2 linked regions of the Homo sapiens genome follow. The protein of the gene in region 2 purifies or fractionates together with the protein of the main gene of each other region. This does not show direct contact. Each region holds a gene or a part of one and is shown on either strand. Other genes may lie near its edges.

Evidence for each region. The genes of interacting proteins can lie anywhere in the genome.
Region 1: the proteins of LMNB2 (region 2) and TSEN15 purify together in Homo sapiens (affinity purification with mass spectrometry; one large-scale study listed by BioGRID and IntAct). This does not show direct contact.

What each region holds. Positions count from the first base shown.
Region 1 is NC_000001.11:184,054,663-184,058,315, reverse strand, and holds part of TSEN15 (tRNA-splicing endonuclease subunit Sen15), read right to left. Parts: intron 3,589-3,653; coding exon 3,453-3,588; intron 156-3,452; exon of another isoform or gene 76-155; intron 1-75. UniProt on the Homo sapiens protein: Non-catalytic subunit of the tRNA-splicing endonuclease complex, a complex responsible for identification and cleavage of the splice sites in pre-tRNA. It cleaves pre-tRNA at the 5' and 3' splice sites to release the intron.
Region 2 is NC_000019.10:2,439,810-2,443,462, forward strand, and holds part of LMNB2 (lamin-B2), read right to left. Parts: intron 1-3,653. UniProt on the Homo sapiens protein: Lamins are intermediate filament proteins that assemble into a filamentous meshwork, and which constitute the major components of the nuclear lamina, a fibrous layer on the nucleoplasmic side of the inner nuclear membrane.

The DNA of each region.
Region 1 (3,653 bases), on a different chromosome or scaffold from region 2:
ATATTTATATAAAAACAAGACATAAAGATTTAAGCTCTCTCAGTTATTAAATGCAACAGCATCAAAATGGCTTACCAAGTTATCATTCCAACTAATTCTACTTGAAGAAGAAAACAAGCTTTAGCCATTCAAGCTAGAAAAGCATTAATTACCACCTGGAAAATACTAGAAATTAACAATGGAAACAAATTTGTACTTCTAGACTTATGAAATGATTTTGATTAAAATAGGCTATTGCTTTCATTAATTTTATTTTTTAGGAATAAATGCAGGTTAATTTCAAATAGTAGCTCCTTGTCCAAACAAATAATATAACATTAATACTAGCTAGGACAATATTTGTTACAGTAATTAAAAGACAGAAGTAATGAGTTCTGAGGAATGAATTAAGACTCTTGGATATAGGATGGCTTGGAAATCATGCTAGTAAAAACCGGAAAGTACTAGCGATTAAATCTGATGTCAATGCTAACAACTATTTGTAATTCTCAAACACAGAGAAAACAGTAAGGAGCTTCTCAAAGAAGCATATGAATAGACTGACATATTAAAAAACAATTCTCATTATGAATAATAAATACAAAAAATACTTCATAGAAATCTGCAAATTTAGTTTAATATGGCTTTATGAAATATGCACAATGAAAATAACCAGTTACAGCAGCTTTAATTTAGAAGGGATCTTGCATGTACTGGTAATCTAAATCCCTCAACAACAAAATAAGACGAGGAAACTGAAACCCAGAGAAATTAGGTGTGTTGCTAAACATCAAACAAAATGTTAAGTGTCAGTCCCAAGACTAGAACCCAGGTCTTAAGACTTTATAGTCTGGGGCTCTTTCTACTAGACTGCTATGTATTCAGTCATAGTCAGCTAGAAAAAATGTTAAGTATTCATCAACGGTATTCATGCTGGAATTTAAGAGGCTCTGCTCTTTTCCCTACTTATATGCCACCCAAATAGAGCTGTGTTTTCATTTGTTCATTCTTCCCATACCCCACTCTCAGAGGTTTACAGCACCCCTTTACATGCTCAATATTACTCTCCTCCACTATCCTCTTGAATCCATCCTTCCTCATCTCTCAAGAATCTTGCTCCATCAATAATTGTCATCTCTTTTCTATTTTCAGACTTTCTGTAGGACAGCTCACGTGGCAGCTGGCTTCCTTTATAGTAAGCAAGAGAGAGTGCCCAAGATAGAAGCCACAGTCTTTTGTAACCTAATCTTAGAAGTTACATTCCTATCATTTTTGCCAAATTTTATTCATTAGAAAGAAGTCACTGAGTCCAGGTCACACTCAAGGGAAGAGAGTTACATAAGGGAGTGAATACCAGAATTAGGAGAAGCCATCTTAGAAGCTGCCTGCTACAGCTTCTAAAGAAGAAATGCATAAGGGAGGCTTGCTAACCAGATACCAAGACTTCTTACCAAGCAAGCGATTAAGAGATATGGTATTGGCAAAAGGACAGATAAACTGGCTAATGGAATATAATAGAGAACCCAGAAACAAATTAATGCATGTTTGGAACTTTGGAAAGTAGCAGAAGTGATATGTCAGATAGTGAGGAAAGGAGGGACTATTCAGTAAATGGAGGTAGAAAAAGTGGTTATCCACATGACAATGGTATCCCTAACCGCCTCTCACACCATTAAAAACAAGAACAATAGAACTCTTAGTGAAAATATAAGTATTTTTTAGACCGTTAGATAGAAAATATTTCTTAAACTAGACACAAAGACGTTGATTATAAAAGATGGATAAATATGATTATATTCAAATTAAGAACTGTTACTCATTGAAAGACATCTTAAGACAGTGAAAGACAGACTTAAAAACTGGAAAACACAATAAAAAAACTATTAGGTCAAGAATATATAAAGAATTCATACAAGTCAATGAGAAAACTAAAAACAACCCAACAGGCAAAAGATATGAACAGATATTTCTTATAAATAATACATATATAAAGAAATATTCAGTATTATGAGTAATAAGGGAAATGTAAATTAAGACCAAAATAAGAATAATCCATTCCATTGGCAAAAATTTAAAAGTCTGACAATACTAAATGTGAGAGACAATACAGCTCCAAAGGATCTTATTTACACTGCAGGTGAAAAGTAAATTGAGGCAACCACTTTGAAAATAGTTTGAAATTATCTCCTAAAGTTAAACATTAGCAACACTCCATCATCGAGGGAGTGGATGTAAAAATGGTGGTATAATCACACAATGGAATGTTATGTGGCAGCTCAAAAAATGCACAAGAATGGATGAATTTTAGTAATATAATATTAAGTGTATAAGGTCAGCCTTAAAAGATAAGATTTTTTAATTAAAGTTAAAAACATCTAAAATTTAAAAATTCCCAATGTACATGGAATTCAGAATGAGTTACCTCAGGTCAGTGAAAGCACGTTAAGGAAGGGACTTATAAGATTAGATGTTAGTTATTATCAAGAATCTAGTTTTGCTTTGGGTGATGGGTACAGAGATACTTATTACATTATTAAAAATAACTAAGTAAATAAATAAAAACCAAGCATGAACTAATAATGAGAGTATGTCATGAAACAAAGACATGTTTAATCCAATGCTGTGTACCTAAGCTTTTTAAAAAAAGGTCCTAAAAAAAGTCTCTTTTTTAAAGCTTTTAAAAAAAGCTACATGAAAATTTGATTTCAGCTTGCATGTTAATCATGCTTTTCACCAACTGCTATATAAAGTATAATTTGTATTACATGGTACATCTTATAACAGCTGTTATTTCATATGTAATGGTCTTGCTTCCTTACCAAGAATATAAATATTTCTACCATACATACTGTCTCTGAAAAAGTACTGACCATAGAGTAAGTGCTAAATAAATACTTGTTGAATGCTTGATATACTTTGTATATTTGTTCCTGCCCAAATCCCATGTTGAACTGTAATCCCCAATGTTGGAGGTGGGGCCTGGTGGGAGATGTTTGGGTTATAGGGGTAAATCCTTCATGGCTGAGTGCTGTCTTCAGGACAATGAGTTCTCGTGAGATCTGGTCATTTAAAAGTGTGTGGAACCTCCCCCTCAACACTCTCTCTCACTCCTGCTTTTGCCATATGATGTGCCTGCTCTTGCTTCACGAACTTCCTCCATGATTATAAGCTTCCTGAGGCCTCCCTAGAAGCCGAGTAGATGCCAGCACCATGCTTACTGTAAAGCCTTCAGAACTATGAGCCACTTAAACCTCTTCTTTTTTTTTTAAGAAATTACTCAGTCTCAGGTATTTCTTTATAGCAATGCAAGAATGGCCGAATACAACACTCATATTTAACTTATTCCTCAAATAGCCAAGAGTAAAGCTATGAACCCTGTATCCCAAATTTCATTAAAAGTATTACATCACTATGTTTAATGTTTCCTACTGCTTTACTCGGGAAAGGAACTTAGACCAAAATCACCTGCTCACCTGTTATGGCTGAGGGAAGCAGTGATGGGGGTAGGCACCACAGTCTGTAACCCCTCCCCTTCTATCTCAGTACCAACAAGGCAGATGAGCTGGAGTTCTGGTAATCCTACACAGTTTACTTCATGCCAGCTTTTGCCTGAAAGAGCATCATTGAATGGACAATAATGTTTATTAAATACAAAAAATAAAAACTCCAAACTT
Region 2 (3,653 bases):
TGCAACCTCCGCCTCCCGGGTTCAAACAATTCTCCTGCCTCAGCCTCCTGTGTAGCTGGGATTACAGGCATGCGCCACCAGCGTCCGCTAATTTTTTATTTTTAGTAGAGATGGGGTTTCTCCATGTTGGCCAGGCTGGTCTCGAACTCCCAACCTCAGGTGATCTGCCCGCCTCGGCCTCCAAAGTGCTGGGATTACAGGCGTGAACCACTGCGCCTGGTCCCCCAGGGCCTTTCAAAAGACCACCTAGGCATTTGCCCAAGAAATGAAAGTGACCCATAGCTGAAAGTGACCGTATGTCTGTCTAAGTATATCTCCATCAATAACTGTATTTATCTATATAATCTATGTCCGTATATATCAATTCTACAGATGGCTGTATCTTTTTTTTTTTTTTTGAGATGGAGTTTCGCTCTTGTTGCCCAGGCTGGAGTGCAATGGTGCGATCTCGGTTCACTGCAACCTCCACCTCCCGGGTTCAAGCGATTCTCCTCCCTCAGCCTCCCAAGTAGCTGAGATTACAGGCAAGTGCCAGCACGCCCAGATAATTTTGTATTTTTAGTAGAGACGGGGTTTCTCCATGTTGGTTAGCCTGGTCTTGAACTCCCATCCTCAAGTGATCTGTCCGCCTTGGCCTCCCAAAGTGCTGGGATTACAGGCATGAGCCACCGCACCCAGCCTTACAGATAGCTATATCTATCTATTGCTCTATCTATTACTGTCTATCCATCTACCCATCATCCATCCATCCATCCACCCATCATCCATCCATCCATCCACTCATCTGTCCATCTATCCATCCACCCATCATCCATCCATCCATCTACTCATCCATCCATCATCTATCCATCATCTCCATCCATCCATCCTTCCATCCATCCCTCAATCATCTATCCATTCATCCATCTACTCATCCATCCATCCATCCATCTATCCACTCATCCATCCATCATCTATCTATCCATTATCTATCCATCATCCATCCATCTACTCATCCATCCATCATCCGTCCACCCATCCAGCCATCCATCCATCATCCACCCATCTCCCTCTCTCTCTCACTAGCTGCCAAGCTCTCACTCTCTGTGGGACTCTTCCTTCCTTCCTTGTGTGACCCGGGGAGGGAGGGCTGCCTTCCCAGCTCACAGTGCCCTCCCTGCCTAGGATCCGTAATAAATCTTCAAACTTGTTTCCTATCGCTGTGCTGAATTTGCGCCTTCTGTCAGAAGAACCAGGAGCTGCCCCAGGCTGGGATCCCAGTGCCAGAGCGATGGTCGGACAGGCATACCCTGGACACAGGTCAGACACGAGCTACGGGGCAGCCACTGTGTAAACAGGTCTCTCGTGTGAGGGGTCCCTGGTCGGGGGTCAGACAACCAGGTCTAAGGCCACCTGCCAGGTAAAAGCATCCGTGCCGGGTACCCTGAATCCCGGGTCTGGCTCCGGTTGTGTCCCGCCAGGGCAGGGCGGCCAGCCGCTCTGGCGCTGGACCTGGTGTAGCCAGGGCTCTCCACACACTAGAGGTGTGGCATCTGCTTGCTTTTGAGAGGCGTGAAGGCCAGAGACTTCGGCCACAAGGCTGATGCACCCCTGTCCGCAGCCCTCAGGGACACTAAGCTCTACTTCCCCACATGGAGCAGATCTCCAGCAGGGTCTGGGGTGCAGATCCCGCATCTCTGAGCACATGCCACACAGGCCAGGCCCTTTCGCTCAGAGGGCTGCGAGCCCTGCGGCCCTGCTGGGGATTTTTGCAGGGGTTTGGGGGAAGGTGGAATCTGTTGGGCAAATCCCGAGTGCCCGCTGTGTGGAAGGCACCGCTCTCACACCAGAGGTGCATCTAGAACCCTTGCCTTACACTGCGGGACGTCCTTGCGGAGGGAGGCATCAGCGACACAGGCTGCCTACCAGACAGGAGGTTGCCTGGGGGCAGGGCTGGAGTGGGGCTGGGAGACAACCCTGGGGGCAGAGACCTGAAGGAGCAGTGCTGGAGGAGCCAGGGCCACCGCTGCTGAAAGAGCCTTCCAGGCAGGCGAGCAGCAGTGCAAAGGCCCAGGGGTGAGGTGGAAGAGGCAGGCTGCAGACCAGCTCAGAGGACTGGAGCGGAGATCGGGGAATCCGGGAAGCTCCTCAGCAACTCGGTCTAAACCACAGGGTTCCGCAGGACTGCAGGGCACACCCAGAAGGCAGGGTGCGGGCTCCCAGGGCTCAGACCCGTTTCCTAAGCGCCAGGTGCTGAGTTAGAATCTTCAGCTGGGTGCCCGGGGTTTTGTGGCAGGCTCTGGCTTGTTAGGTCCTGCACGCTGCTCCCAGTGTTTCTCTCATTGTGGGGTTTTGGAGATAAATTTGTTAGGATAAGAAAAACATTAGGCTTGGCCCAGTGGCTCATACCTATACCCAGTGCTTTGGGAGGCTGAGGTGGGAGGATCACTTTAGCCTGGGAGTTGAAGACCAGCTTGAGCAACATAGCGAGACCTCATCTCTACAAATAATAAAAAAATTAGGCCAGGCATGGTGGTTTACATCTGTAATCCCAGCACTCTGGGAGGCCAAGGCGGGTGGATCGCTTAAGTCCAGGAGTTTGAGACCAGCCTGGCCAACTTGGTAAAAAAATTAGCTGGGCAAGGTGGTGTGAGCCTCTAATCCCAACTATTCAGGAGGCTGAGGCAGGAGAATCGTTTGAATTTGGGAGGTGGATGTTGCAGTGAGCCGAGATTGCACCACTGCACTCCAGCCTGGGTGACAGAGCAAGACTATGTCTCAAAAGGAAATAAATAAAAAATAAAAAAAATTAGTTGGGTGTAGTGGTGCATGCCTGGGGTCCCAGCTACTCGGGGTGGGGCTGAGGCAGGATCACCTGAGCCTGGGAGTTCGAGGCTGCAGCGAGCTATGATTGTGCCACTGAGCTCCAGCCTAGGCAACAGAGACCCTGTCTTAATGAAAAGGAAAAGACGGGCCTCTCTGTAGATGCCACGCACTGCTCAGGAGATTGTGAACTGGGAATTCCTCAACACCTAGGGCGGGCACTGTGTACCATTTTCTTTTTTTAATGTTTTAATTTGAGGTGAAATTCACATCCTGTACATTTCAACATCTTAAAGTGAACAGTTGAGAGGCGCCTGGTGCGGGGCCAGCAGCAGCTCTGTCCCATCTGCACGGTGTAGTTCTGACATTTCAGAGCTCCGTGCACCCCTGACCAAGCTCTAGTCATCCCACAGCCTGCATGGCTCCACTGATGAACCTGCTTATTAAACACGGTGGGTGCTGGAGGTAGACAGCACAGAGCTGCTGCCTGAGCAGGTCCCGGGGTGCACCTGTGCTGTGTGGGATGTGCTGAGAGTGGGCAGCCTGTCCTGGCTGGTGCCTGGCCCCAGGGTCCCCGGCTCATGGCCACCATCAGGGCACAAATGGTCCCTCCTGGAGCCCCAGGCCCCGGGCAGGCGGGCGGTGGTCCCTGGGCTGACCTGGAGGGTCTCCTGTTGGGGAAGGGAAGTCAGCTCTCCACGGGAGCAGCGCCAGCCCAGGAAGGAGGAGGGCGTCGGATGGAGAGGTCACCTGCAACCACGCATGGGGGCCCCGGCACTGTTGGACACAGGGTCCCCGGTCATTCCTCTGGCCACACTCCAACTCAGGGACAACGTGGATTCTCAAGCCAC